Homo sapiens: one gene and its partners. The protein of the gene in region 3 interacts with the protein of the main gene of each other region in a biochemical or structural test. Each region holds a gene or a part of one and is shown on either strand. Other genes may lie near its edges.

What was found.
Region 1: the proteins of CDC25A (region 3) and YWHAQ form a complex in vitro, tested with the Homo sapiens proteins (2 studies listed by BioGRID, with this or other methods).
Region 2: the proteins of CDC25A (region 3) and CCNE1 form a complex in vitro, tested with the Homo sapiens proteins (2 studies listed by BioGRID).
Region 4: of the proteins of CDC25A (region 3) and CHEK1, one has a biochemical effect on the other in vitro, tested with the Homo sapiens proteins (7 studies listed by BioGRID and IntAct, with this or other methods).

The regions. Positions count from the first base shown.
Region 1 is NC_000002.12:9,582,236-9,586,519, reverse strand, and holds the end of YWHAQ (14-3-3 protein theta), read left to right. Parts: intron 1-1,174; coding exon 1,175-1,234; 3' UTR 1,235-2,553; downstream 2,554-4,284. UniProt on the Homo sapiens protein: Adapter protein implicated in the regulation of a large spectrum of both general and specialized signaling pathways. Binds to a large number of partners, usually by recognition of a phosphoserine or phosphothreonine motif.
Region 2 is NC_000019.10:29,806,073-29,815,480, forward strand, and holds the start of CCNE1 (G1/S-specific cyclin-E1), read left to right. Parts: upstream 1-5,918; 5' UTR 5,919-6,080; intron 6,081-6,459; 5' UTR 6,460-6,483; coding exon 6,484-6,506; intron 6,507-6,616; coding exon 6,617-6,704; intron 6,705-6,896; coding exon 6,897-6,965; intron 6,966-9,408. UniProt on the Homo sapiens protein: Essential for the control of the cell cycle at the G1/S (start) transition.
Region 3 is NC_000003.12:48,156,885-48,165,637, reverse strand, and holds the end of CDC25A (M-phase inducer phosphatase 1), read left to right. Parts: coding exon 1-2; intron 3-1,200; coding exon 1,201-1,331; intron 1,332-6,182; coding exon 6,183-6,294; intron 6,295-6,552; coding exon 6,553-6,693; 3' UTR 6,694-8,492; downstream 8,493-8,753. UniProt on the Homo sapiens protein: Tyrosine protein phosphatase which functions as a dosage-dependent inducer of mitotic progression. Directly dephosphorylates CDK1 and stimulates its kinase activity. Also dephosphorylates CDK2 in complex with cyclin-E, in vitro.
Region 4 is NC_000011.10:125,641,154-125,649,906, forward strand, and holds part of CHEK1 (serine/threonine-protein kinase Chk1), read left to right. Parts: intron 1-2,638; coding exon 2,639-2,747; intron 2,748-2,937; coding exon 2,938-3,115; intron 3,116-3,358; coding exon 3,359-3,490; intron 3,491-8,753. UniProt on the Homo sapiens protein: Serine/threonine-protein kinase which is required for checkpoint-mediated cell cycle arrest and activation of DNA repair in response to the presence of DNA damage or unreplicated DNA.

The DNA of each region.
Region 1 (4,284 bases), on a different chromosome or scaffold from region 3:
CCAGATGTATACCTTGGAGCTAACTATCTTTTAATCGGTTTTGTTTTGTTATCTCTATTATGGAGACAGGTCTTTGGGGGATTTTGTTTTGTTTGTTTTTATTTAGTATCTTCATAATAATCTAAGGATTATGTAAGATTCTGGCTTTTCTGAAATTAACACTAATGTCTTGCTGTTGGTCTAATAAAGTGCAATTATAGTCAATAAATACTGACTTCTCTTCTTCACTTCATCTTCCTATCCTAAAATCAGAGAGATCCTGGAAGATCCACTTAGTTTTAACATTCTGTCTAATTCAAGAACCCTGTCTATACATGCACACATTGCTTCCCTGTAGCTTCCATCACCCACTTCTATTTAATTCTTGGAGAAACACAAAGTAAGTCTGCTTTTCCTATAGTTTAGCCCTTCACACACTTGAAAATTGTTAACCATGATTGTGGCTTTTTCCTCCCTGTGAAAATGTTTTGCTTTATTAGTCTGTAATAATAATGCAGTAGTGCTTTCAAGAAGAGCATTGGGCTGCTGGGAATAGAGACTATCACTTTGCTTATTCTGAAAGTAGAGTGCCTTTTTAAAAAAGTTTCTCTTTTTTTTTTTTTTTTTTGAGAAAGGATCTCACCCTGTTGCCTAGGCTGGAGTGCAGTGTCATAATCATGGATCACTCCAGCCTCAACCTCCTGGATTCAAGCAGTCCTCCTGCCTCAGCCTCCTGAGTAGTTAGGACTGTAGGCACACACCACCCCGTACCTGGCCAATTTTGTTTTTGAAATTTTTTGTAGACGTGGGATCTTGCTATGTTGTCCAGGCTGTTGAACTCCTGGCCTCATGCGATCTTCTCATCTTGGCCTCCCTACGTGCTGAGATTACAGGCGTGAGCCACTGTGCCTGGCCAAATGCTTTTTAAATAAAAAGGAAGCTATAAAACCATGCTCCAGTGGTATATGTATGTATGTATGTATGTCATTTTGTAAGTGCATAGTGAAAGGTCTGCAAGGATGTACTTTGGGAAGGTGATGGTCTTTGGGGTTTTGAGAGAGAACTTCAGTCTTAGTCAAGATCTCCATTGTTTGAGGAATTTACTACTCTTGTAGTTAATTTTGATATAACAATACTACTTAGTGTAATTGCCTAATCTAGAAATAGTAACTTAATATGATTCTTCTTTTTCTAGCTTTGGACATCAGACAGTGCAGGAGAAGAATGTGATGCGGCAGAAGGGGCTGAAAACTAAATCCATACAGGGTGTCATCCTTCTTTCCTTCAAGAAACCTTTTTACACATCTCCATTCCTTATTCCACTTGGATTTCCTATAGCAAAGAAACCCATTCATGTGTATGGAATCAACTGTTTATAGTCTTTTCACACTGCAGCTTTGGGAAAACTTCATTCCTTGATTTGTGTTTGTCTTGGCCTTCCTGGTGTGCAGTACTGCTGTAGAAAAGTATTAATAGCTTCATTTCATATAAACATAAGTAACTCCCAAACACTTATGTAGAGGACTAAAAATGTATCTGGTATTTAAGTAATCTGAACCAGTTCTGCAAGTGACTGTGTTTTGTATTACTGTGAAAATAAGAAAATGTAGTTAATTACAATTTAAAGAGTATTCCACATAACTTCTTAATTTCTACATTCCCTCCCTTACTCTTCGGGGGTTTCCTTTCAGTAAGCAACTTTTCCATGCTCTTAATGTATTCCTTTTTAGTAGGAATCCGGAAGTATTAGATTGAATGGAAAAGCACTTGCCATCTCTGTCTAGGGGTCACAAATTGAAATGGCTCCTGTATCACATACGGAGGTCTTGTGTATCTGTGGCAACAGGGAGTTTCCTTATTCACTCTTTATTTGCTGCTGTTTAAGTTGCCAACCTCCCCTCCCAATAAAAATTCACTTACACCTCCTGCCTTTGTAGTTCTGGTATTCACTTTACTATGTGATAGAAGTAGCATGTTGCTGCCAGAATACAAGCATTGCTTTTGGCAAATTAAAGTGCATGTCATTTCTTAATACACTAGAAAGGGGAAATAAATTAAAGTACACAAGTCCAAGTCTAAAACTTTAGTACTTTTCCATGCAGATTTGTGCACATGTGAGAGGGTGTCCAGTTTGTCTAGTGATTGTTATTTAGAGAGTTGGACCACTATTGTGTGTTGCTAATCATTGACTGTAGTCCCAAAAAAGCCTTGTGAAAATGTTATGCCCTATGTAACAGCAGAGTAACATAAAATAAAAGTACATTTTATAAACCATTTACTATGGCTTTGTAACAATTGCATACCCATATTTTAAGGGACAGGTGAATTTACTACTTTCTAAAGTTTATTGATACTTCCCTTTTATGTAAAATGTAGTAGTGATACCTATATTTCCACATTGTGCATTGTGACACACTTGTCTAGGGATGCCTGGAAGTGTATAAAATTGGACTGCATTTCTTAGAGTGTTTTACTATAGATCAGTCTCATGGGCCATCTCTTCCTCAGATGTAAATGATATCTGGTTAAGTGTTATATGGAATAAAGTGGACATTTTAAAACTAGCAAAGTTAATTATGTGATTGTGAGTGCCTTGGCTGTTATTAGAATTGTGCTTCAGTGGATATTCAAAAGGAATGTAAGAGTTCAGACACAGATACTCCTCAACTTAAAATGGGGCTACACCCTGATAAACCCATTGCAAGTTGAAAATACGAAGTCAAAACTGCACTGAATACACCTGACCTAATGAACATTATAGCTTAACCTATCCTACATTAAATGTGCCCAGAACACTTAGCCCTACAGTTGGGCAAAATCAAAGAACATGAAGCCTACTTTATACTAAAGCGTTGGATCTCTCAGGTAATTTGTTGAACACTGAAAGTGAAAACCATTGATTGTATAGGTACTTGAAGTATGCTTTCTACTGAATGCCTGTCATTTCCACACCATTGTAAAGTCAAAAAATTAAGTTGGGGACTCTATGCTTCTGTTTGTAAACATTCAATCTTACTATTAGTGAGTTCAAAATAATTTTGGTTTTATAGTATCACAATAGCTATTATTTTACTAACCAATCTCAGATTAGTAAAATAACTGAGACTGAATGACTTGAGAACTGATTTTTAAGTCAGAAGATAATCTGAAAAAATAGCTATGTAGGATTCTTCTTGATCCTAAAATGTGAATATGAAACAAGGCTTCATTTATAGTTGTTTTCTTTTCTTTTCTTTTTTCCCTTTTTTTTTTTTTTTTTTTTTTTTGAGACAGAGTTTCACTCTGTTGCCCAGGCTAAGAGTGCAGTGGTGCGATCTTGGCTCACCACAACCTCCGCCTTCTGGGTTCAACAGATTCTCCTGCCTCAGCCTCCCGAGTAGCTGGGATTACAGGCACCCGCCACCACACCCGGCTAATTTTTTTTATTTTTAGTAGAGACGGGGTTTCACCATGTTGGCCAGGCTGGTCTTGAACTCCTGACCTCAGGTGATCCACCTGCCTGAGCTTCCCAAAATGCTAGGATTACAGGCATGAGCCACCACGCCCGACCTATACTTGTTTTCTAAGGGGAAATGAAAAGGCAGAATTCAGTAGGACTCTGGTATCCCAAAATTTAAATCAGGACACTACTTTTTAAATAAAAATCATAGTAAAAATAACATTTTGAATTGAGAAAAAATGATCATTTCTTAAGACCAGTAAAATGGTATGTGCTGAGTAATGAATTATGTTATCAAAGTGGCCTTAAAGAATAGATTATTTTCTAGCCAGGCGCGTTGGCTCATGCCTGTAATCCCAGCACTATGGGAGGCTGAGGCGGGCAGATCATTTGAGGTCAGGAGGTCAAGACCAGCCTGGCCAATATGGTGAAACCCTGTCTCTATTAAAAATACAAAAATTAGGCTGGGCACAGTGGCTCACACCTGTAATCCCAGCACTTTGGGAGGTTGAGGCGGGTGGATCACTTGAGGTCAGGAGTTCAAGACCAGCCTGGCCAACATAGTGAAACGCCATCTCTACTGAAAATACAAAAAAATGGCTGGGTGCAGTGGCTCACGCCTGTCATCCCAGCACTTTGGGAAGCCGAGGTGGGTGGATCACAAGGTCAGGAGTTTGAGACCAGCCTGGCCAACATGGTTAAACCCCATCTCTACTAAAAATAGAAGAAAAGTAGTGAGGCATGGTGGTGGGCACCTGTAATCCCAGCTACTCAGGAGGCTGAGGTAGGAGAATTGCTTGAACCTGGGAGGCAGAGGTTGCAGTGAGCCGAGATCGCGCCACAGCACTCCAGCCTGGGTGACAGAG
Region 2 (9,408 bases), on a different chromosome or scaffold from region 3:
TAGCGAATTGGCTCCTGTATCCAGGAAGCTTCTAGTAATCCAGTCTTGGGCTTGATTGGATCCAGAACCTCAAGGGATCAGAAGTCTGCCTCCCAGAACCTCTGGCTCTGCTTTCCAGGAAGGACTTCCCTCTACGAAAGGTCAACTTATGTGGCAAGATGGCCTCATGGCTGCAGGCCCACTTCTAGTCGGCTTAGCAACTCCTGAGGCTCGTCATTGGCCCAGCCTGGGTCATTGTGCTTATGCCTGAGCCAATCGCATGGCCAGGAATGCGGGATTCTGATTGGCCAAGGCCCCTCCCCCATTAAAGTGCAGAGAGGGTGTAGCTTGGAGGAAAATGCTGGACCCTGACAGGAAGGGAGAGGCCAGGGCCTTTGCTATCCCAGCCCGTGCTCTGTCTTGCAGCTGTGCCTGTCTTCAGAAATCCCAAAATGAGATTTAAATGAAAGCTGAGGGTATGGCAGTCAGACACAGAACAGAACACTCTTGTGTGTTAACTGGTGCTGAGAGGGTAGCTTCCTGCTGCGTATCTGCCCAGCCACCCCCACCTCCCCAACCTCATCACACACTCCCACTCTTTCAAGCATCTTCAAATTAGTCTCTGCCCTTTTTTTTTTTTTTTTTTTTTCCAGAGACAGGGGCTTGCTGTGTCACCCGGGATGGACTGCAGTGGTGAGATCACAGCTCACTGCATCCTTGACCTGCAGTGATCCTCCTGCCTTCGCCTCCAGAGTAGCTGGGACTACAGGCGTGCACCACCATGCCTGGCTTATTTTTCTATTTTTTTGTAGAGATGGGGGTCTTGCTTTGTAGCCCAGGCTGGTGTCAAACTCCTGGGCTCAAAAGATCCTCCCACTTCGGCCTCCCAAAGTGCTAGGATTACAGGTGTGAGCCACTGTGCCCACTGCCCACCCTGTCTCTACTCCTTACAACCCTGAAGTTAATACAGAATCCAAAAATGTCAGCTGCCATCATTATCCTATCATACACTAAGTTAAAAGGCCAATTTTAATTTTCCCTGGAAGTTTTCATTGGTCACAGCCTCCATCTGAAGAAGCGATGGCTAGGCTTGCTCCCCAATGTAAGAGGAGGTTAGGCCGGGACAGAAGCACCCTTTCACTGGTTTTCATCCTTCCCACCTTGGTGGCTTTACACAGCAGTGTGCGCTGGTTCTGAGCAGGAACCAAGCCTTGGGGAGCATGGGTTGGGCCCTTGCCTGGCTGGCTGGGGGGCCTGTGCAGGCAGATTGTCCCGCCCAGGGAGGACAGGAGCCAAGCCTCCAGGGCTTTCCCATGCTCACGTTCCCTGGCGCTGGGCCGCAGACACTCTGTGGTTGACAGCCTGGTCCTGTTCATCTTGCCCGGCTCCCACTTCACAGCTCACACTGGTATAGTGTGGCCCCCTCCTCTTCTAGTATTTCCATGTGTAGCCTCACAAGATAACTGGCTCATCCAGGTGGCCACAGATGTCCAGCTTGGCCCCACAGCAAGGCCTTAGCCAGCTCCACTGCCAGCCACAGCCCACACCTTCCCTGATCAACCTTTGCTAGCAGCGGGGCTCTTTAATTGTCCGCTAAGACGCCTTTGAGGACCTGGTAGAAGTTAGGCTCCAGCTGCCTGGGGAAATGCACATGGGCCCAACAGTAGGCAGGCTCCTGGGTCTCCAAAGGCTGTCCAGGGATCCCATGTTAAGGAATCCTATCTGGGAAGGACTTCCCCCTTGCAATCCCTTGGTCTTCCTTCTCCTTAACCTTTATGTCCTGGTGCCCGTCCTCCATCATCAGAGCCTGAACCATATAGGAAGCTAAGCAAATAACCCCCAAATCTCTTTATGAGTAATAACAACACAAATTGAGCAGTTACCTTGTGCCAGATACTGTTGAAAACACTTGAGGGGTATTAATACATTTACCCCTCACCGCAACCCCATGACGTTGGGACAATTAGAATTATACCCATTTTACAGATGAGAAGATTAAAGCACAGAGAGGTTGGAGAACCTTCCCAAAGTCTCATAGCAAAGGGGAGGTGTTGCCCTCCCTACACAGCAGCTGGTTCACCACCTCTGATGCAATCCACAGTCTCCCTCAAGGCTGGGCCAATGCTCGGGAGCTCTGGACTTGAGGCAAGCACAGAATGGAATGAACCCAAACACCCAAAGGTGAGCTGCCCTAGAAAGGCGGACATTGGGCCGGGTGCGGTGGCTCATGCCTATAATCCCAGTACTTTGGGAGGCCCAGGTGGGCGGATCACCTGAGGTCGGGAGTTTGAGACCAGCCTGGCCAACATGGTGAAACTCCATCTTTACTAAAAATACAAAATTAGCCAGGCATGATGGCACATGCCTGTAATCCCAGCTACTTGGTAGGCTGAGGCAGGAGAATCGCTTGAACCCAGGAGGCGGAAGTTGCAGTGAGCTGAGATCGCGCCATTGCACTCCAGCCTGAGCAAAAAGAGCAAAATTCCGTCTCAAAAAAAATAAAAATGAAAACAAAAGACATCAGTGGTTTCTGAAGACTCCAAGCTGCTGTATAGGCTGTGTCTGCCATCTTGGACACAACTTTTCTATTGTTCCTATTAAATGTGTTCATCCTTCTGGCTTACATGCCATTTTCTTCATGCAAACTTCTTGCCATCCAAGGATGGGTTGGATACATCCTTCTCCACATGAAGTCATAGCCCCAAGACTCTTCCCTTCCCAGCCCTATCATGCTACACTGCAAATGCATGACAGCCTCCCTTCCACACCGGAAGCTCCCAAGAGGGCAGGGATTGTGTCTTGCTTTGCTATGTCTTGAATTAAAAAATAATAATAATAATTATTGGCTGGGCGCAGAGGTTCACACCTGTAATCCCAGCACTTTGGGAGGCCAAGGAGGGAGAATCACTTGAGGCCAGGAGTTTGAGATCAGCCTGGCCAACATAGTGAAACACTGTCTCTATTAAAAATACAAAAATTAGCCGGGCGTGGTGGCAGGCGCCTATAATCTCAGCTACTTGGGAGGCTCAGGCAGCAGAATCGATTGAACCTGGGAGGCGGAGGTTGCAGTGAGCTGAGATAGCGTCATCACACTCCAGCCTGGGCAACAAGAGCTAAACTCCGTCTCAAATAATAATAATAATAACAACAATAATAATAAGGCCGGGCACAGTGGCTCACTCCTGAAATCCCAGCACTTTGGGAGGCCAAGGCGGGCGGATCACGAGGTCAAGAGATGGAGACCATCCTGGCCAACATGGTGAAACCCCGTCTCTACTAAAAATACAAAAATTAGCTGGGCGAGGTGGCGCATGCCTATAATCCCAGCCGCTCGGGAGACTGAGGTAGGAGAATCACTTGAACCCAGGAGGCAGAGGTTACAGTGAGCTGAGATCGCGTCATTGCACTCTAGTCTGGACGACACTCTGTCTAAAAAATAAATAATAATTATTATTATTATTTAATTTTTATTGAGTAAAAGATACATTCAGTAAAGTGCACAAATCCTAGGTGTGAACTTTTATGTATGTATCAATCAATGAGCTTTTATGTATGTATACAGTCATGAAACCACCACTCAGATCAAAGCATACATGTCTAGCCCCTAGAAGTTTCCCCTGGTCTCCTCCCGGTCATTACTCCTCACCCTAGGGGTAAATACTGTTACGGTGACTGCTGTCTTTTCTTAAACTTCAAATAAATGGAAACTTCAAATAAGTGTGTCTGGCTTCTTGGGCTCAACATGTTGTCTCTGAAATTCTCATGTTGCTGCATGATTCCTTGGTTTGTCCTTTTTATTGCTGTGTGGTATTCCATTGAATTAATATAACAACATTTATGTATCCATTCTATTCTTGATGAACATGTCAGCTAGGATGTGGAGGATTTGGGCTCTATCTTTGCTGGTGGGTGTATACATTGCTGTAATGACTAAGGAAAACTGTCTTGTCTACCATCATTATAATAACTCATTTAGTGAGCATTTACTGTGTGCCAGGTACTGTACAGGAGTCAGCTACATTATCTCAATCTTCACAATGATCCTTGGGAGTAGATAGTTGCCATCTGTGAAACAGGATAATTGTGGCATCAACATGAATAGGATTATTGTGAAGTTTAATTGAGATGATACTTTGAAGGACTTAGCCCAGTGCTGCCATTTTGGAAACACTGTTTATGATACCTGTTACTGGTGATTCCTAACGGGCACAGGATGGGGGGTTCAGGTGCCTGGGTCCCTGCTGAGCAAGTAGCCCAGCAGCCTTGGCCTCAGAGCACCTGGGGGAATCATGAATTTGTGAGCCTCTTTGATAAGACCCTGGCTCTAACTTCAAGAAAACGGTCACTAGGGGAGGGTGAGGGACAGGACTGAGACTTTAGCTTAAGAAGGGCCCTGGGAGCATTCCAGAGCCTTCTTTTACGCACATCTTCCTGAAGCTGAGTACAGAGGGTACTCTGAGGTGATGACTGTTCCTTACCTGTCTCTCTCATTAGCCGGTAAGCCCTGCAAGGGCTTGGCCAGTGCCTGTCTTTCAAATGTTCATTCAGAAACAATTTAAGTGTCTCCCTTGGTCCAGGCACTATGCCAAGAACTGACAGATACAGCAGTGAGCAAGATGGGCAAGGTGGGGAGAGAGACAAGAAACAGAGAGGCACCAAGACTGTGTAGGGGCTGGGCTCCCAGCACTTTGGGAGGCCAAGGCGGGAGGATCGCTTGAGCTCATGGGTTTGAGACCAGCCTGAGCAACATAGCAAGACCCTATCCCTACCTGCCACCCCCCACCCCCCGCCACAATAAAAAATACAAGTCTTGAGGGAGAAAGGACAGAGGAGCTGTGGAGAGGAGGCCTGAGGTCTGAGGGTGGGGGATCAGGGTCAGGTCCTGTGGAGCCTGTAGCCTAGGACACGGAGTGTGGATTTGACCCTTATGCGAAACAACTGGAAGGCTTTTTGTTTCTTTTTCTGTAGAAATGGGGGTCTCACTGTTACCCAGGCTGGTCTCGAACACCCCAAGGGATCAGCCGTCTCGGCCTCCCACAATGCTGGGATTAAAGGCGTGAGCCACCGCGCCCGGCCTCAACTGGAAGGCTTTAAGTGAGAGATGGGGTGCAAGGGAATCCCAGAGTCAGAAAGGTCTTCAGAGAGCCAGGAAGGGCTTGCGGGGGAGGGGCGCATATGGAAGGGGCGCATGGAAGGAACTCACAGATTCCTTGAATGAATGAATGAACGACCCAATGCACTGACGGATGAATGGACAGGCGGCCAGGAATAGCAGCCGGCCCCCAGGGAGCCCCAGACCCCGCGGCCTGAAGCCTTGGTTCTAGGCCAAGGCACAGGCGCGGTGACCTTGGGGATGTCCCCGCCCAGGACTCAGGGCCCGGAACTCGGCGTCTCGGGGGCGGGGAGGGCGTGCCTGGCGGGACAGCGCGCGCGGAGGAACGGCGGGCGGTGCTCCTCGGGTAGGCCCCCCACACATCCCCTTGGCTCAGCCCTGCCGGGGCCCGAACCCGCGCCGCCCGCCGTGTTTACATTCCACCCGCGCCAGCCACGCGGCTTTTTGCCGCTCCAGCGCCGCTCGGCCCCGCCCCCGGCGCCCGCGGCCCGCCCCTCGCCGCCGCGCGCCAGACTTCTCCCGCGTCCCGCCCGCCGCCCCGCCCCGCGTCCCGCGCCCCGCGCCCCGCGCCCGGCCCTCGGCGCGCAGGCCCTGTCACTTGGCCCCGCCCTGTCCGCCGGCCCCGCCCCTGATTCCCCGTCCCTGCGCCTCGCGGGCCGGCGCCGTGGAGGGGCGGGTCCGGGGGCGGGGCGAGGGACGGGGCGGGACGGGCTCTGGGTCCCGCGCGGCCGCTGAGGGGCTGGGAGCCGCGGCGGGGCGGTGCGAGGGCGGGCCGGGGCCGGTTCCGCGCGCAGGGATTTTAAATGTCCCGCTCTGAGCCGGGCGCAGGAGCAGCCGGCGCGGCCGCCAGCGCGGTGTAGGGGGCAGGCGCGGATCCCGCCACCGCCGCGCGCTCGGCCCGCCGACTCCCGGCGCCGCCGCCGCCACTGCCGTCGCCGCCGCCGCCTGCCGGGACTGGAGCGCGCCGTCCGCCGCGGACAAGACCCTGGTGAGTCTACTGCCGCGGGCTGCGGACAGGGACTCCTGGGGCCCAGACCGCGCCGGGGAGCTGGGTGGGGGCGGGGTGCGGCCGGGTCGCGGGTCCCCGGGCGGCGTCGCGGGGCGCCCGGGAGGGTGCTGAGAGCGCGGCGGGGTGGGGTGGAGGGGACACTGAGGCAGCCCGGGCCCCGGGAGGCGACGGGCCGGTGAGGGCGGCGGGGGCGGCGGGACCCCGGGTCGGGGGTCGGCGGGTGCCCGGGTCGCGGGTGACAGGCCACCCCGCCATCGGCCATCTTCCTGGCTCGCCCGGCCGCCCGCGCGCAAAGGGGGAAGGGGTACTGGGCCCGCGGCCTGACCCCGCCGCCGCCTCACCCCGCGCCGCCCCGCAGGCCTCAGGCCGGAGCAGCCCCATCATGCCGAGGGAGCGCAGGGAGCGGTGAGTGCCCGCGCCGCGGGGCCGGACGGGACGGGACGGGACGGGACGGGTGGCGTGGGGGAGGGGCGGCCGCGGGTGCTCACCCGGCCCGGTGCCACCCGGGTCCACAGGGATGCGAAGGAGCGGGACACCATGAAGGAGGACGGCGGCGCGGAGTTCTCGGCTCGCTCCAGGAAGAGGAAGGCAAACGTGACCGTTGTGAGTACAAAAGAGACAGGTTGGGGAGCATCCCCCCCATCTCACCTGGGTACCCGACTTGGCTCTGCCTACGGGGGCGGGGGTCCCTTGGGCAGGAACGGAGCTCATAACCTGATCAGCTTTCTCTTCTTCTCTCTGTTTTTGTCTTGTTTGGTGTGTTTCCTTGGGGTCATGGGGGTGGCTTCATGTTAGTTTTTGCAGGATCCAGATGAAGAAATGGCCAAAATCGACAGGACGGCGAGGGACCAGTGTGGGAGCCAGGTAGGTCCGCCCGGGGTTGGGCCTCTGTGGAGGTCCTTCTCCCCCTGGGTCACATGGGGTTTCATGCTGTCTTGTCTCTTGCTGGAGACACTCTGGTGAGAGTGAACTTCTCTAATGCAGCCACAGCCCATATGGCCCAGCACTGTACCTGTCAGTGGGCACTGGCCTCTGCCAGTCCTGGGATTCCAGGAAGCTTGGTGTTCCTGACTGGCACCGTCTGAGATTACAGATATGTGCCTAGCCTGGAAGAACCAGAATGGACATCACAGTATTCAGTCCTCCCCTTCTGCCCAGGAGGAAACTGAGACTCAGTTAGAGGAAGAAAGTAACCCAGAGTCCTGTGCCATCCAGGGGCAAAGTTGGGCTCTCGGCCTTGTCTGTAAAAGCTGGTGAACTGGGGGAGGGTTCCTGGGTGTTTATAAGCAACAACTTTCCCCCTATCTACACCTATTTTTCTTGTCATGGTGTTTAAGGACCTCCTCCGTCTTCTGTAGGTCAGATTTCAAATTCTTCTCCTCTTTCTGGCCCTGGAAGTTCTTATAGCCCCTCCAGCAATTACCTGCATTGATCCCCAGCTCAGCCTGACCTCAGCAAGAGTATCAGTGGAACATTCAGTGTAATGATAGGTGGTGTCTCAATACATTTTTTTTTGACTGCTTTTCTTTTCTCTCCTTAAGGAGTTCCTGCCAAATTTCCTGCATGCAGTGTGATAATCATTATAATATCAGAAGTTTCTTGCAGAAAAAGCTTGTACTATCTCTTTACTTTCAGAAATGGCTGGAGACTGTAGTTATGGCTCCAGTGGGGGAAGCAGCCTATCTCTAAACTAGCTGGTCAGGCCTTCTGACTCTATCACAGATAAACGCTGAACAGAAACAGTGTTCGACCTGAGTGCAGGGATCCCAGCTAGGTTAGCAGAGAAGCCCCTCACTTTGCAGAGCAGCAGCCAGGGTAGTTCATCTGGAAGCGTGAAGGGTTTCAACGCAGTGCGCCGTGTTCTAAATAGCAGTTGTCACTGCATGTAAGGTCCCCCGAAATAAGCATTTCTGAGGAGGGTCCACTGACTATTGAAGAAAGGGTTGCTGATTTCCTTTTTCATTCAAAGAAATCATTTCAGAGACGGAAATGAGACGGCATATCCCCAGTTTTTTTTTTCTTCCCTTAAAGTACATTCAAATCAAGCAAGTTGATTTTTTAGGTATTATAAAATGAATTCTGACTTTGTGAAATTCAGGACTGTTTATTTTCCCAGCTGTGTTTTGAATAGAAAAGAAACTTCCAGCTGAAGATGAAGCAGGGCCGTCCCTGTTGCATTCTTGGAGTTTTAGAAGCATGTCTGTTCTCAAGGATAGCCTGAGCAGTGACGAGGGTGCCTCCTGGGACGGATTGTGGCTCTGTCCCCTGGCCACAGTGTGGATAGCTGTGCTGCCGGAATAGCCATACCATTTCCCACTAGAAGGCATTTTCGTGGTTATCCAGAGATTAATGGCGACAGATTTCTATACGTTTTGTAGAGTAGATAGCTTAAACATTAGCTGTCTATGTATGGAGCAGTATCTTTGTTATTTCTTTGTGGAGCTTCATGAAACTAGAACTTGGGGGTACAACAGAACCTTTTTCCCTGCTCACATACAGAATTTTTCTCTGGAGTTATCATAATTCCCCCCAGTACGACAGTCTTGAGCTACTTGGAGCCATTGTGCCAAACTCTTGTGTAACTGCTTCATCGAGACCACATGGAAGCTTTTTAATTTTCATCTTAGGCTGTTCTTAATGAAAAGAATACCCTTTTATCTAAGATCTACTTAACACGTCCATTTTGTTGTTTAATTTTTTTGCACAAGACTCAATCTTTCTATTGAAGTGGAATCCTGGACTGTTACTTTTCAGAAAATAATCCTATGTAAGGAAAAAAGTGGTATGAGGAGTTGGAGTGGTTAGGAATCCCGTGGGTCTCTTATTGTTATCTCATTCTTTCCTAAATAAAGTCAGACAGATCTTGCTTTGAAACTTGGTGTACACTCAAGGACATAGACTTAATTATTCTACCTCATCCACTGGTCCCTAAAAAGGCCAACTTTGGAAACCATTTGTCTGCTGATGGTTCACCTAGTTTGGGAACTGCTGCTGGACTCATCTATGTCCAAAGGCCTGCTCTCAGATGTGCCAGCCATCTGGCTGTAGAGGGTGGCACCCAGCATTATGCCTTCAAGACTAGAATTCATTCTTCCTGAATGAAGAACAACTTACAGCGGTTGTAATGTGACCCTTTTTGAGTTAAGGAAATGCCACCCGCACATGGTACTAGAACTGAAAGGAAGCAGCCTTGCTCGCACAGCTGTTGGCAGGAGCTGTCATGGATAATTTGCATGCCCAATTCTTTGTACATTGGGTGGGGAAGAGCTTTATCTGGCTTTGCTCTTCTAACTGAAAGTGCTTGGGC
Region 3 (8,753 bases):
AGGTATGGATTCCTGAGACTTGCTGTAGAAGGAGCCCTAAACAGGATCTGTGGTTTTAAAGTGGGGAGGACAGTGACACCTGGCCACTTAGCTCATATGCTAGTTGTTAGAATTTTGAAACAATACAGTGAGTGTGGAAGGCATTTGATTCCGGGTGCTCTTAACGAATGTTCCCTTGTCTGCAATACTCTCTACCACCTTGTGCACAGTTATTCTTCATGTTTGTCCCTCACACCATCATTATCAAGGACACTTGTAGGAGGTACCCACTGATGTTTAAGTCATTCGGGGGACAAGAATGGGTTTCATAGCATTTAAGAGGCTTGGGTACCAATGTCTGAGCACCCCAGGGCTCCTGATGAGGAGAAGACCATCTCTGGCAACATGTCCTGGTGTCTGTGCCAGGCCTAGTGATGCCTCCAAAGTTGATTGTTCAGCAAGCTGCCTGGTGGAGGGGCGTGTTGGGACACACGTTCCCAAGAAGAAAGGAACTGATTTTGCCATTTTAATCTTTTTTTTTTTTTTTTTTTGAGACAGAGTCCGCTCTGTCGCCAGGCTGGAGTGCAGTGGCATGATCTCGGATCACCACAACCTCTGCCTCCTGGGTTCAAGCAATTCTCCTGCCTCAGCCTTCCAAGTAGCTGGGACTACAGGTGCACGCTGCCACGCCCGGCTAATTTTTTTTTTTTTTTAGTAGAGACGGGGTTTCACCATGTTGCCCGGGCTGGTCTCAAACTCCTGAGCTCAGGCAAACCGCCCGCCTCAGCCTCCCAAAGTGCTAGGATTACAGGCATGAGCCACGGCGCCTGGCCTGCCATTTTAATGTTTTACCCGATTAATAGTGTTTAAATATAGTAAGGAGGTACTTTAAATACGATGTTACTGTTTGCCATTGTCTTGTGGCTTTTGAAAATCCCCAAATTTATAAAACTACCTATAAAGTGTACCATTGTCATATTTGAATTGCCCATTTCCAGTCCCCATGTGCATTACTGTATGATGAACGTGTACGGACCCACAAAGCTCCATTGAGATACAGGTGCCAAATGGTCTACTGGGCTATTCAGCTAGAAGAACTGCAAAAATCACAAACTGGTCTTGTGGACTTAAAGATCACTCTTGATGAATCATTACATCTTGCTGAATCATTACTTCATGTGTGAAACGTGCAGGTTCCAAGGGTCTCTGTTGTCTTCACAGGGTGCAGTGAACTTGCACATGGAAGAAGAGGTTGAAGACTTCTTATTGAAGAAGCCCATTGTACCTACTGATGGCAAGCGTGTCATTGTTGTGTTTCACTGCGAGTTTTCTTCTGAGAGAGGTCCCCGCATGTGAGTGCTGCACGGAACTGGGTTCTGGGGCACAGGCTCCATGATGCTTTTGTGGGACATGGTGGTTTGTGGCTTGCACTTGGAGCATATTTTAGCATATCAAGCAACCTCTGGCACATAACAAGCCATTTTCATATGTAATTTTATCCTGAGGTGAACTTTGGCTCTTCCAGTCTCCCCGACTGTCCTTAGTCTGATCTGTGGGGCTACTGTTCTCATGTGACCTCCTTCAAGTACAAAGTGACCGTTCCTTATGCAAATGCCAGAAAAGTGTGAAGTTCTCATTCTGTAAAACCTCATATGATATGATGCTTTGAAACACTTGATATTATTACCAATTTCAGGGTGAAAAGAAAAAAGGGGGCCAAAGAGCTGCCCATCAGTCATCTGTGTCCATTCTAAAAGGATTGCAAGCCTGCTGTTTGTCAGGCACTGACAATAAAAATGTAACTACAGTAAAACACAGTACAGTAAAAATACCACAGCGAGCAGGACCAACAAGGACCCTACTGCAGCAGAGATCCAAGTGGGGATCCGTATAAATGCTAGGAGGACAGGCAGAGAGGTAGGACAGAGAGTGCAGCTTAACTAGGATGGTCCAAGGGAGACTTCTGCAGGACCACGTTCTTATGCCACCTTTTTATTTTGAACCAATTTATTTTAAAAAACATTTTTAAATTAAAAAATTTCAATTTTTTTTTTTTGACGGAGTTTTGCTCTTGTTGCCCAGGCTGGAGTGCAGTGGCACAATCTCTTCTCACTGCAACCTCTGCCTCCCAGGTTCAAGCAGTTCTCCTGCCTCAGCCTCCCAAGTAGCTGGGATTACAGGCATGCGCCATCACGCCCGGCTAATTTTGTATTTTTAGTAGAGGCAGGGTTTCTACATGTTGGTCAGGCTGGTCTTGAACTCCCGACCTTAGGTGATCCGCCTGCCTCAGCCTCCCAAAGTAGTGGGATTACAGGCGTGAGCCACTGCACCTGGCTTTTTCTTTCTTTCTTTCTTTCTTTTTTTTTTTTTTTTTTGAGGCGGAGGCACACTGTTTTCACCCAGACTGGAATGCAGTGGCATGATCTCGGCTCACTGCAACCTCCACCTCCTGGGTTCAAGCGATTCTCCTGCCTCAGCCTCCTGAGTAGCTGGGATAACAGGCGTGCACCACCACACCCGGCTAATTTTTGTATTTGTAGTAGAGATGGGGGTTTCACCATGTTGGCCGGGCTGGTCTTGAACTCCTGACCTCAGGTGATCCACCCGCCTTGACCTCCCAAAGTGCTGGGATTACAGGTGTGAGCCACCACGCCCAGCAGAAATTTCAAATTTTGAGATGGGGTCTTAATATATTGGCCAGGTTGGTCTCAAACTCCTGGCCTCAAGCAATCCTCTCTCCTTGGCCTCCAAAGTGCTAGGATTGCAGGCATGAGCCACTGTGCCCACCCCTTTGAACCTTTTTTTTTTTTTGAGACGGAGTCTCGCTCTGTCACCCAGGCTGGAGTGCAGTGGCACAATCTCGACTTACTGCAAGCTCCGCCTCCTGGGTTCATGCCATTCTCCTGCCTCAGCCTCCCGAGTAGCTGGGACTACAGGTGCCCACCATCACGCCTGGCTAATTTTTTTGTATTTTTAGTAGAGACAGGGTTTCACCATTTTAGCCAGGATGGTCTCCATCTCCTGACCTTGCGATCTGCCCGTCTCGGCCTCCCAAAGTGCTTGGATTACAGGCGTGAGCCACTGCGCCTGACCTGAACCATTTTAAAGCTCAAGAAGAGGTGAGGTTATGGCTGGGCACAGTGGCACCTGTAATCCCAACACTTTGGGAGGCCGAGGCAGGAGGATCACTTGCTCGGGAGTTTCAGACCAGACCAACCTGGGTAACACAGTGGGACCACACCTCTACAAAAAATAGGAGGTGGGAGGATCGTTTGAGCCCAGCAGGTCGAGGCTGTGGTGAGCCATGATCATGCCACTGTACTCCAGCCTAGGTGACAGAGTGAGATTCTGTCTCTCTCTCACACACACACACACACACACACACACACACAAAGGTTATACTTGCACACACTTCACCTGATTTTATTAATTTTTAACATTTTGTCACATTTGTATGTACATGCTCTACACACAGGCAACTACAGTACAACTTGACACTTTTGACTGTCATCTCATAAGTCCTTCAAACATCTGTCTCCAAAGGATGCTCATTCATGAATGGAATTATTCACTCAGCAGTTTTTTTGTTTGTTTGTTTGAGATGTAGTCTTGCTCTGCCACCCAGACTGGAGTGCAGTGGTGCGATCTCGGATCACTGCAACCTCCACCTCCCGGGTTCAAGCAATTCTCCTGCCTCAGGCTCCCAAGTAGCTGGGACTACGGGTGCATGCCACCATGCCAAGCTAATGTTTGTATTTTTAGTAGAGACGGGGTTTTGCTACATTGGCCAGGCTGGTCTCGAACTCCTGACCTCAAGTGATCTACCCGCCTCAGCCTCCCAAAGTGCTGGGATTATAGGCCTGAAACAAACTAATCTGGACACACATACACACACATGTAAATTGTTTTTAAACCCACAAAAGATGCTGCTCTCTTTTTTTTTTATTTTTGAGTCAGGGTCAGTCTCTGTTGTCCAGGCTGGAGTACAGTGGCAGGAGCACAGCTCACTGTAGCCTCTGCCTCCCAGGCTCAAGTGATTCTCCCACCTCAGCCTCCCAGGAAGCTAGGACCACAAACATGCATCACCATGCCTGGCTAATTTTTGTATTTTTTATAGAGACAGGGTCTCACTGTGTTGCCCAGGCTGGTCTCAAACTCCTGGGCTCAGGCAATCCTGGCCTCCCAAAGTGCTTGGATTACAGGTGTGAGCCGCCATGCCCAGCCCAAAAGATGCTATTCTCTTAATCTCTCATTTCCCCATCTTCCTCTTTAACACCTCTAATATAAAGGACATTATTATACCATATTGAAACTTCACCTAGATATACAGAAAACGCCCCATCTCTGTATTCTGTATTTGCAAGCTGCATGTTTATATCACCATCTACAGATACCCCTTACACTTCGTTCCCCACTTGAGTTTCGCCATCACTGGCTTTCTGTTGTTCCACTGGGGAAAGATTTGGGATTCACAGGTGAACTCTTTTTTTTTTTTTTTTTTTTTTTTGAGTTGGAATCTCGCCCTTTCGCCCAGGCTGGAATGCAGTGGCACAATCTCGGCTCACTGCAGCCTCCTCCTCCCGGGTTCAAGCATTTCTCTGCCTCAGCCTCCCAAGTAGCTGGGATTACAGGCACCTGCCACCACGCCCAGCTAATTTTTTGTAGTTTTAGTAGACACAGGGTTTCACTATCTTGGCCAGGCTGGTCTCGAACTCCTGACCTCGTGATCCACCGCCTCAGCCTCCCAAAGTGCTGGAATTACAGGTGTGAGCCACCGCGCCCAGCCAAACTCCTTTTAACCACAGGCAAATGGTTTAAGCTACGTGCTGCAGAGGAAGCTGCTGCCCATCCCTCATGAGCAGCTAACAAAGGCCCCAAACCACTGAGCTTCAAGAGAAAATCAGCAGATACTCTTGGCTCTTGTGTACCAGATACCTTTCTAGATACTGAGGGAGAAGAGCAGTGAACAAAACAGACCAAAAAATCTCTGCCTTCATGGAACTTACATTTCGGAGTGGACAGGAGATCGAGACCAGCCTGGCCAACATGGTGAAATCCCGTCTCTACTAAAAATACAAAAATTAGCCAGGCGTGGTGGCGGACACCTGTAATCCCAGCTACTTTGGAGGCTGAGGCAGGAGCATCCCTTGAACCCAGGAGGCAGAGGTTGCAGTGAGCCGAGATCGCGCCAGTGCACTCCAGCCTGGGCGACAGAGTGAGACTCCATCTCAAAAAAAAAAAAAAAAAGGTGACTGGGTGCGGTGGCTAACTCCTGTAATCCCAACACTTTGGGAGGCCAAGGCAGGTGGATCACAAGGTCAAGAGGTCGAGACCATCCTGGCCAACATGGTGAAGCCCCATCTCTACTAAACATACAAAAATCAGCTGGGCGGTGGCACGCGCCTGTAGTCCCAGCTATTTGGGAGGCTGAGGCAGGAGAATTGCTTGAACCCGGGAGACGGAGATTGCAGTGAGCCTGAGGTCACGCCCTTGCACTCCAGCCTGGTGACAGAGTGAGATTCTGTCTCAGAAAAAAGAAGGTGCTTCAGAGGAAAATAAGGCCAGTGGTGGAGCTCCCAGGCAGGCTGGAGGAACAGTAGTGGGGCTGCAGGGGCTGGCGTGGGGTGAACAAGGGGCAGAGCAGCAGTAGGGGCCTGTAGAGCTGTAGGCCTCTGAAGGACTTGGGGCCTCGGGCTTTTTCACCAAGGGCGAGGCAGTAAGCAGCCATTGGCTGGATATTGAAGACCATTCAGTCCAAGTAGAGGATAGAAACAGGGCCCCGAGGCAGGAGCAAGTTCAGCCTCTTTAAAAGCCACAGAAAGAAACAAGCCCACTTATGTAGAAGGAGGTGAGTGAGGGAGCCTGGCTGAAGAGAAGGCTGGGGTGGAGAAAGCAAGGGGAAGCTGGCTCATATAGTGAAAACTTGCCACAAACTGTGGTGGTGAAGGTGCTGGGCAGGACTCAGATGCTAGGATTGTTGGAGAAAGGAAAATTGGGGAAGAGACCATCTACTGGCACTGGCTGTGAGTGCTGCTCATGTGGCCAGGAACTTGCAACTCAGCACTGATTGTTTCTAAGAATAAATGTCAAGTTGGGAAGATGTGTATAAGGGGGACTTAGACCACAACTGCTGCTTTGACTGCGTTGCCTTGTTGCTGTGCTGGAAAAGCTAACCCTGCTTTGGCCTTCCTTCCCCTGACTAGGTGCCGGTATGTGAGAGAGAGAGATCGCCTGGGTAATGAATACCCCAAACTCCACTACCCTGAGCTGTATGTCCTGAAGGGGGGATACAAGGAGTTCTTTATGAAATGCCAGGTAAGACTGGGGTTGTGGAGAGCATCTCTCCTCCCCTGCCCCCAGTGGTAGACTAATGGATCTGTCTGGTGGTCATGACTTTCTTTCCAGGGGTCGGGGGACAAGGTGGGTATCTGCTGAACCCAAAGAAAGCCCCTGTAGAACTGGCTCCCTAGGTCTGCCTGGCCGCTTTCAGCCTTGTAGCCCTAGGCAGAGAGGAAACCAGGTTGTGGGTGTGAGGCAGGTGTACCCTAACCTTATTCTCTCCTGTCCCCTCAGTCTTACTGTGAGCCCCCTAGCTACCGGCCCATGCACCACGAGGACTTTAAAGAAGACCTGAAGAAGTTCCGCACCAAGAGCCGGACCTGGGCAGGGGAGAAGAGCAAGAGGGAGATGTACAGTCGTCTGAAGAAGCTCTGAGGGCGGCAGGACCAGCCAGCAGCAGCCCAAGCTTCCCTCCATCCCCCTTTACCCTCTTTGCTGCAGAGAAACTTAAGCAAAGGGGACAGCTGTGTGACATTTGGAGAGGGGGCCTGGGACTTCCATGCCTTAAACCTACCTCCCACACTCCCAAGGTTGGAGCCCAGGGCATCTTGCTGGCTACGCCTCTTCTGTCCCTGTTAGACGTCCTCCGTCCATATCAGAACTGTGCCACAATGCAGTTCTGAGCACCGTGTCAAGCTGCTCTGAGCCACAGTGGGATGAACCAGCCGGGGCCTTATCGGGCTCCAGCCATCTCATGAGGGGAGAGGAGACGGAGGGGAGTAGAGAAGTTACACAGAAATGCTGCTGGCCAAATAGCAAAGACAACCTGGGAAGGAAAGGTCTTTGTGGGATAATCCATATGTTTAATTTATTCAACTTCATCAATCACTTTATTTTATTTTTTTTTCTAACTCCTGGAGACTTATTTTACTGCTTCATTAGGTTGAAATACTGCCATTCTAGGTAGGGTTTTATTATCCCAGGGACTACCTCGGCTTTTAATTTAAAAAAAAAAAAGAAGTGGGTAAGAAAATGCAAACCTGTTATAAGTTATCGGACAGAAAGCTAGGTGCTCTGTCACCCCCAGGAGGCGCTGTGGTACTGGGGCTGCTGCTATTTAAGCCAAGAACTGAGGTCCTGGTGAGAGCGTTGGACCCAGGCTTGGCTGCCTGACATAAGCTAAATCTCCCAGACCCACCACTGGCTACCGATATCTATTTGGTGGGAGGTGTGGCCCTGTTCTTCCTCACCCCAGTTCCATGACATTGGCTGGTATAGGAGCCACAGTCAGGAAAGCACTTGAGGCAGCATCTGTTGGGCCACCCCCGGCTCAGTGCTGGAATGTTGCAGTGTAGGTTTCCCAGGGAAGGGGGGTGGGGGTAGGTGGGCTCCACAGGATGGGGGAGGAGCATGTCCACTGAGTATCTTCCTTATGTTGCTGTGATATTGATAGCTTTTATTTTCTAATTTTTAAAAAATGGTCATATTATGAGTCAAAGAGTATCAAATCAGTGTTGGATGGACCACCCAAGGGTGAGGAGAGGGGCTGGAAGCCCTGGGCATTAGGAGAAGGGAGTGGGTGCTGGCATGGACATGACTGGATAGAATTTTCTCAGGAGGGAGCTTGGTGGATTTTGAAGGTAAAACTTTCTGGGTTTATCATGTTTTAATTTTAGAGACAGGGAGTGATGAATCATCACCGGTTGTCCCCTTATCTAACTCCATAAAAGTGGGAATTTCAAAAGAACACCTCATCCAAGGAGCTGGGGCAGACTTCATTGATTCTAGAGAGACCTGTTTCAGTGCCTACTCATCCCTGCCCTCTGGTGCCAGCCTCCTTACCATCACGGCTTCACTGAGGTGTAGGTGGGTTTTTCTTAAACAGGAGACAGTCTCTCCCCTCTTACCTCAACTTCTTGGGGTGGGAATCAGTGATACTGGAGATGGCTAGTTGCTGTGTTACGGGTTTGAGTTACATTTGGCTATAAAACAATCTTGTTGGGAAAAATGTGGGGGAGAGGACTTCTTCCTACACGCGCATTGAGACAGATTCCAACTGGTTAATGATATTGTTTGTAAGAAAGAGATTCTGTTGGTTGACTGCCTAAAGAGAAAGGTGGGATGGCCTTCAGATTATACCAGCTTAGCTAGCATTACTAACCAACTGTTGGAAGCTCTGAAAATAAAAGATCTTGAACCCATGCTCTCTGCCTAGTTCTTGATGGATTTAAGGAGAATTACATTTCCCTTTAAGGTCCTGGGACCACATTAACTAAAATTAGTGTTTGGGATGGCCACATTTCCTCAAGAAGCTCTGACTCCAAAAACTTGTGGTTCAGATTGATTTGCAAGATGAAATGGGTGCATAAAAAGTGTGCCTGAGGCCAGCCGCAGTGGCTCATGCTTGTAATCCCCGCATTTTGGGAGGCCGAGGCAGGCAGATCACTTGAGGCCAGGAGGTCAAGGCTGCAGTGCCCACACATAATGTGATGCTG
Region 4 (8,753 bases), on a different chromosome or scaffold from region 3:
GTGGATAAGGGGGGTACTACTGTAGTCAGTTCTCAGACCTCTTGTTTTATCTCATCAATATTTTATACAGTTGATCATGCCCTCCTCCTTTAAACACTTTCTTCATTTGGCTTCCAGGCGTTACACTCTTCTGATTTTCGTCCTTCTCACTGGTCGCTCTTTTCAGTCTCTTGATGGTTTTTTTTCATCTGCTCAGCCTCCTACTATTGGAGTTCTCCAGGGCTGAATCTATGGATCTCCTTTGTTTTCTTCTCCACACTCACTCCATTAGTGATATTACTTGGTTTCATGGCTCTAAATAAAACTATATGTTGATAGTCACATTTATATCAACCTAGACCTTTCCTCTGAATTCCAAACTTACATGTCTTAACTGCCTTCTGAAATTTCACTTGAATGTTAAGAGGCATCTCACACTTGATGAATTCCAAACTGAGTTACTGATCTTTTCCTTTCAAACCCATTCCTTTTCAAAGTCTTTCCCATGTTGGTTAATGGCAACTGCATTATTCTTATTATGCAGATCAGAAACTTTGGAATCATCCTTCATTTTTCTCATTCTCTTTTACTTCACATCCAGTACACCAGCTAATTCTGTTAACCTCTATCTTTAAAAAAATCTTAGAATCTGATTACCTTTTTTTTTTTTACCTCTACTGTTACCCTATCATTCCAAATTACCATGATATCTTTCCAAAATGTTCTGATTTAAAAGTGAATTAGAATATATCACTATTCTACCCAAATCCTCCAATGCTTTAGTTCTCACGTGTAGTGTAAGCTAAAATCAGTTCATGACCTGTGAGTTCTTACACAATTTTGTTCCTTACATTACCTCTCCAACCTCAGTTCTGCTTTGCTCCCCCTTGGTCATATTGTTGTTCTTCTTATTGTTCTCCAAGTGCTCTAGGCACACTTCTACCTCACTGTTTTTGTAGTGACTGTTCCTATGTCTGAAAATGCTTTTTCCCATGGGACTTATTTGCATGTCTTATTCTCTTACTTTCTTTGGATATTGACTTCAGTGTCATCTTTCCAATAAGCCTTTCCTGGCCATGCTATTTAAAATGGTATCCTCTTCCCTCTAACACATTTCTTAAATTTTTAAAATTTTTACTCTCTTGTGGACATACGCAATCCAACACGTTTCTTCATTTTATTTTCCTTCAGTGTACTTACCACCATTTAGCTTACTGATTTTTAACTGTATTTGTATTTATTTTATGTTATTTTGTCTCTCCTCAGTAGAATGTAGGATTTAAAAGGTCAAGAGTTTTTTTTCTATTTTGCTCACTGCTGAATACCTGATACCTAGAATAATGCCTGGCACAGAGTAGACCTAATAAAATATCTGAATGAATGGATTAATAAATAAAAAGCAGGTTTAAAAAAAAACTTGAGCATGTTTAAAAAGAAACAAACTTAAGCATGTTTAAGTGGTTTGGGTACGGATCCTGTAGAGAGGAAGAGGCTGACAGTCTAAGAGAAAGGAAATAAATAACAGAGGATCAAGATCCCTAAGGAGGTAGAAGGGTATGGGCTCCAGAGCACAAGTAGAGAGATGAACATTTGATGGGAGAATGGAAGGGATGAAAAGATGTATAATAATACAAATAACTTAGCTTTGGTAGGGATAAGTTGATGTAGTTTCTGTCTAATGGCTTTATTTTTTCTCTGAAATGGGAGGTGGTAGTATAGGTACTGGATGGTAGTCTTGGGAATTACAGAAAAGTGTAGTTTTGAAATGATCCTTGTGGAGAAAAGGAAAGGAAACTAGAGAAACAAATATTATCTGGCAATATTGAGGTTTAGCTAGGGATTGTAACCATAAATTTACAGTGGCGTCATTTTCCATATAATATTCTTCTTTATAAAGCTTTTCCAAGGAATCAAAGAATGTTGGCTATAGCAGATTCATAATGTTTATTGCTATTATCATAAATTATTTTTTATTTTAAAAAGTTCTAGTCCTTTAGCCAGGTCTGTTGTCTTCATAGAACATTGTTCTGTTACCCATAAAAGATGCCATTAAGACTGTGGCCTGGGCCGGGCGCAGTGGCTCACGCCTGTAATCCCAGCACTTTGGGAGGCCGAGGCGGGTGGATCACGAGGTCAGGAGATCAACACCATCCTGGCTAACATGGTGAAACCCCATCTCTCCTAAAAATACAAAAAAAAAAAAAAAAAAAATTAGCTGGGCGTGGTGGCGGGTGCCTGTAGTCCCAGCTACTCAGGGGGCTGAGGCAGGAGAATGGCGTGAACCCTGGAGACAGAGCTTGTAGTGAGCCAAGATCGCGCCACTGCACTCCAGCCTGGGTGACAGAGCGAGACTCCGTCTCAAAAAAAGAAAAAAAAAAAGATTGTGGTCTGAGCATACTCCACACTTTGAACATGTCTACAGATCATACTTAGGTATTGTAAAATACCTAATTTGACAAATGAGTTTTAGTAATTTTATAACTTGGCCATATTTTTTATAAAATCATATAGGAAGACTTTGTTTTATATCTTACAAAAATTTTGTGTTAAATAAATAGATTTAGACATAGTTTTACTTCTTCAAGTTGCCAGTTGGGTTAATTTAAAAACATACTTGCATAGAAGACTTGAAAGCATTTGTATTTGTTTTCTTTTTTAGGGGCAAAAAGGCCCCGAGTCACTTCAGGTGGTGTGTCAGAGTCTCCCAGTGGATTTTCTAAGCACATTCAATCCAATTTGGACTTCTCTCCAGTAAACAGTGCTTCTAGGTAAGACTGATAAAGATTGAGTAGTTTTTGATTGTAGTATTCCCCATGAAGAATAATACATGTATGTGTTTTTTCATAATAATCGACATTAACATAATACTGTAAGCATGAGAACTTGTGTGTGATATAAGAAAGGCCTGATAGATTTTATTTTATTAAATGTATGTTTCTTTCTGTCTTAATGCCTCAGTGAAGAAAATGTGAAGTACTCCAGTTCTCAGCCAGAACCCCGCACAGGTCTTTCCTTATGGGATACCAGCCCCTCATACATTGATAAATTGGTACAAGGGATCAGCTTTTCCCAGCCCACATGTCCTGATCATATGCTTTTGAATAGTCAGTTACTTGGCACCCCAGGATCCTCACAGGTGAGGGAATTTAATTTTTTAAAAGTAATGGCAGCTCTTTATTTTTTATTGTCTTAAAGTCCTTTTTTAATGTGTAAATCTTAGATATATAACTTTTAAATCACATGTATTCTTTTTTGGTCAAGGAAGAAAGAGAGGAGGGAGGCCTTCATGCAAAATAATTTTAAGTCAGACTAAATAGCTATGATATTACTGTCTTTAGTCCTAATGGATTTATTCATTTGTCTTCTGTTTGACATGTAGAACCCCTGGCAGCGGTTGGTCAAAAGAATGACACGATTCTTTACCAAATTGGATGCAGACAAATCTTATCAATGCCTGAAAGAGACTTGTGAGAAGTTGGGCTATCAATGGAAGAAAAGTTGTATGAATCAGGTGTGTTTCATTGATTTTCATTATACCTTTTCCTGAAGAAGAATTTAAATATTTGAGTAAAAGCTATCATTAGTATATTTTTTAAATATAGGCTGTGGCTCACACCTGTAATCCCAGCTTTTTGGGAGGCTGGGGTGGGCGGATCACCTGAGGTCAGGGGTTCGAGACCAGCCTGGCCAACATGGTAAGACCCTGTCTCTACTAAAAGCACAAAAATTAGCCGGCCTGGTGGTGCATGGCTGTAATCCCAGCTTCTCGGGAGGCTGAGGCACGAGAATTGCTTGAACCTGGAAGACGGAAGTTGCAGTGAGCCGAGATCCTGCCAGTGCACTCCTGCGTGGCCAACAGAGTGAGACTGTCTCAAAGAAAACCAAACAAACATAAAAATACAAAGTAATTAGTTAATTTGAAAAAGAAACTATTTAAGTAAAATGTTCTTTACTTTAAGAAATAATACTTTTTTTTATTTTGTTTTATTTTTTAATTTTTAATTTTTAGCCACTGTGCCTGGCCTAAGAAATAATATTTCTTAAAAGACCTTTTTATTGTTATTAAAAATAGTAGGGAGCTGGAATCATTATCTTTGTAAAAACTATGTATACTTAAACTGTAGACAATAACAGTTGACTGCCTACTATGAAAGACGAATACATTAGCAATCCCACACTTTCTCCCATCTCCCTTGATTGCACCCGTCAATTTTTATTGTTTATATTATTAGAGCATAGTTATAACATTGGTATTCTAAACTGTCTTTAAGGCTTTTCAAAAAAAATGTTAATGTCAATGAAAGACAAATAGGGTAGCTGTTTTTTACTCAAGGAGACTAAAGAGGCCTGATAACTAAGTGCAAGTGCAATGCATGATCTTTCACTAGATCATGTATTTGAAAAAAACTATAACGGACATTATTGGAACAATTGGGGAAATTTGAATATGGACTGTATATTAATTAGGTAATGTTTTTGTATCAGCGTCAGATTTCTTGGGTGTGATAATACTGTGGTTTGTAGGAGAATGCCCTTGTTCAAAGGAGAACAAGTGTCAAAGCAAAGTTGAAGTGAAGTGATATTTTCATTCAGCTTAAAATTTAAAAAAATAAAGGGCAAACAACTACATAAAGGCCAATAAACACACACATATCTGGTAGATAAGGCCAATGAAGAGTATATGGTTATTTATTATACTCTTTTTTCAGTTTTTCTGTAGATTCGAGTTTTCAAAATTAAAAATTGGGGGAACTGTTACTGTGTAGAAATCTGAGGTCAGCCTGATAGTCTTCTCACTCACATAGGTGATTCACTTTCTTTCAGGTAGACTCAGAGATAAAATTTGCATAACATAAGAATCATCACTTTAACCATTTTAAAATGTAAAATGCAGTGCTTTTTAGTATATTCACAAGGTTGTGCAACCATCGCCCCTAATTCCAGAACATTGCATCACCACGGGGAAAAAAAAACAAAACACCTCTGTACCACCTAGAATCACTCTTTATTCCTTTCTTGCTCCATTCCCAGACAACCTCGAATCTACTTTCTGTCTTTAGGGATTGCCTTTTTGGACATTTTATATAAATGGAATCATATAACATGTAGTCCTTTGGGTCTGTCTGCTTTCATTTAGCACGTTTTCAAGGTTCATAGCATCTATCAGTACTTTATTCCTTTTTATGGCTGAATAATATTCTGTTGTGTGTATGTATTACATTTCGTTTATCCATTCATCCACTCATGGACATTTGGGTTGTTTCTACTTTTTCATCATTATGAATAATACTGCTGTGAACAATCTTGTACCAGTTTTTGTGTGACCATATGTTTTCAATTTCTTAGATATATATGGAGGAATAGAATTGTTGGAGCATATGGTAACTCTTCATTTAACTTTTTGAGAAACTGTGAAATGATTTTTCCAAAGCACCTGTACCATTTTACGTTCCCATCAGTAATGTAAGAGGGTTCCAATTTCTCTACAACCTTGCCAACACTTACTGCCTCCCCTTTTTGCTATGGCCATCCTAGTGTGTATGAAGTCTTATCTCATTTTGCTTTTGATTTTCATCTCTCTAAAGACTAATGATCTTGAGCATATTCTTATATGCTTATTGGCCATTTCTTTATAACAGTATCCGGATATTTTGTCCATGCTTTAACTGGCTTGTTTTTATTGTTGAGTTGTTAGAGTTCTTTTACATTCTGGACACTAGAACCTTGTCAGGTACCTGATTTGCAAATATTTTATCCCATTCTGTGGGAGAAAATTCCCCCATTCTTTTGTTTTCTTGTTAGTGTCGTTTGATGTACTCAAGTTTTAGATTTTGATGAATTCCAGTGGATCTATAATTTCTCTTTTGTTGCCTATGCTTTTAGTGTCAAATTTAAGAAACTGTTGCCTGATGTAAGATTGTAAAGATTTATACTTTATGCTTTCTTTTAGGAGTCCCAGCCTCCTAAGTAGCGGGGACTACAGTCTTAAAGTTTAGCTCTTATATTTAGGTCTTTGTCCATTTTGAGTTAATATTTGTATATAGTATGATGTAGGGTGCAAATTCAAATGTTTGTATGTGAATATTCAGATTCCAGCACCATTTGTTGAAGATATGTTTTACTATTAGATGGTCTTGGCACCTTTGTTGAAAATAAATAGGTCATAGATGTATGGGTTTATTTCTGGAATCTCAATTCTTTTTTTTTCCTTTTTTTTTTCTTCCCCTGTGGACTCAATTCTTTTATTTCATGGATCTATATGTCTGTGCTATGCCGTTACCACACTATGTTGATTACTGTAGCTTTATAGTGAATTTTGACATTAGAAAATATGAGTTGTCCAAGTTTGTTCTTTTTTTCAAGGTATTTTGGTTATTTGTGGCCCCTTGTTTTTCTGTCTTTTAGGATTATCTTATTTCTGCAAGAAAAAAATTTGGAATTTTAAAAGAGATTACATTGGGGAGTATTTCCATTTTAGTATATATTGAGTATTCTTTATTCAAGGTGCTTGGGACCAAAAGTTTTGTGGATTTTACATTTGTTTGGATTTTGGAATATTTGCATATGCATATTGAGATAACTTACAGATGGGACTCAAGTTGAAACATGAATAATTTTATTTATGCTTCATATATACCTGATACAGATAGCCTGAAGGTAATTTTATACAATGTTTTAAATAATTTTGTGCATGAAACAAAGTTTGTACATTGAACTATCAGAAAGCAAACCTGTCAGGTATGAAATTTTCAGTTTGTCACATGATGTCAGCACCTGAAAAGTTTTGGAGTTTGGAACATTTTGGATTTCAGATTTGAGATTAAGGATGCTAAACCTCTAATAGTAACTCTTCTAATCCAATAACATGGGGCCTTTTTTTTCCCATTTTTTTAGGGTCTTTAATTTCTTTCAAGAATATTTTGTAGTTTTCAGTGTTCAAGTCTTGCACTTCCTAGGTTAAATGTAATCCTGTTTATTCTTTTTTTTTTTATCCTGATGCTGATGTAAATGGAATTTTTTAAAATTTTATTTTCAAATTGTTCATTGCTATATGCAAATGAATTTTGTATATTGATCTTGTATCCTGAAAATTTGCTGAATTCATTAACTCCAGTAGTTTTTTTGACAAATTCTTTAGGTTTTTTAATATATTAAGATTACATTATTTGGCAGGGCGTGGTGGCTCACGCCTGTAATCCCAGCACTTTGGGAGGCCGTTGCGGGTGGATCATGAGGTCAAGCGTTTGAGACCTGCCTGGCCCACATAGTGAAACCCCGTCTCTACTAAAAATACAAAAAATTAGCTGGGCGTGGTTGCGGGCACCGGTAATCCCAGCTACTCGGGAGGCTGAGGCCGGAGAATCACTTGAACCTGGGAGGCGGAGGTTGCAGTGAGCCGAGATGACGCCACTGCACTCCAGCCTGGGCGACAGATCAAGACTCCGTCTCAAAAAAAAAAAAATTACATTGTTTATCAATAGAGATACAGGAAATTGTTTTACTTTTTTTTTTTTTTTTAACCCAGATGCCTTTTAATTCTTTTTGTTTAGTTGTCCTGGCTAGGACTTCCAACATTATGTTGAACAGAAATAGAGTCTTTGTCTTGTTCTTGATCTTAGGGTTAAGTTTCGAGTCTTTCAGCATTAAGTATGATGTTAGCTGTGGGGTTTTTGTTTTTATGGTGAAAGAGTATTGGATTTTGTCAAATGTTTTCTCCGTCTATTGAGATAATCATGTGGATTTTTTTTCCCTTTATTAATATAGCTTGACCTCCTGTGCCCAAGTGATCCTCTCATCTCAGCCTCCTAAGTAGCTGGGACTACAGGTGTACACTATCATACCCAGCTAACTTTTTAAAAATGTTTTTGTAGAGATGCAGTCTCTGTGTTTACCAGGCTGGCCTTGACCTTCTGGGCTCAAGTGATCCTCCTGAGTAGTGGGTACTACAGGTGTGCACCACCATGCCCAGCTAAATTGACAGTTTTCATCAGTCTGTTTATTTTGTCTAATGTTAGTATATCCACATCAGCTCACCAGCTATCTTGTGTATTTTCCTTTTTTTAGATGGAGTCTCACTATGTTGCCTAGGCTAGACTGTAGTGGCTACTTAAAGGCACGATCATAGTGCAATGCAGCCTCAAATTCCTGGGCTCAAGTGACCCTCCTGCCTTGGCCTCCCAAGTAGGTGGGACTGCAGGCATGTACCACCATACCCAGCTACCAGCTCTCTTTTGGTTATTGTTTCCATGGTCTATTTTTTTTTTCCTTTTCCTTTTAACCTATTTGTGTCTTTGAATCTAAAGTGCCTTAGCCAGGTGTCATGGCTGACACCTGTAATTCCAGCACTTTAGGAGGCTGAGGTGGGTAGATCACTTGAGGCCAGGAGTTTGAGACCAGCCTGGCCAACATGGTGAAACCCCATCTCTACTAAAAATATTTTAAAAATTAGTTGGGCGTTGTGGTGTGCACCTGTAATGCCAGCTATTGGGGAGGCTTTAGGTGGGAGGATAGTCTGAGCCATTGGAGATCAAGGCTGCAGTGAGTCGTGATCTGATTGCATGACTGCTCTCCAGCCTGGGTGACAGAGCAAGACTGTCTCAAAAAAAAAAAAAAATCGCTTCTTAGCCTTTTGGCTAAGATCAAGTGTAGTATCTATTCCTATCAGTTTAAGTGCCTTAATTTCTCTTCCACTTTTTGGACAGGTAGTTTTGCTGGATATAGAATTCTTATTAGCTTTTGTCTTTCAGCACTTTGATTATGCCACTACTGCCTTC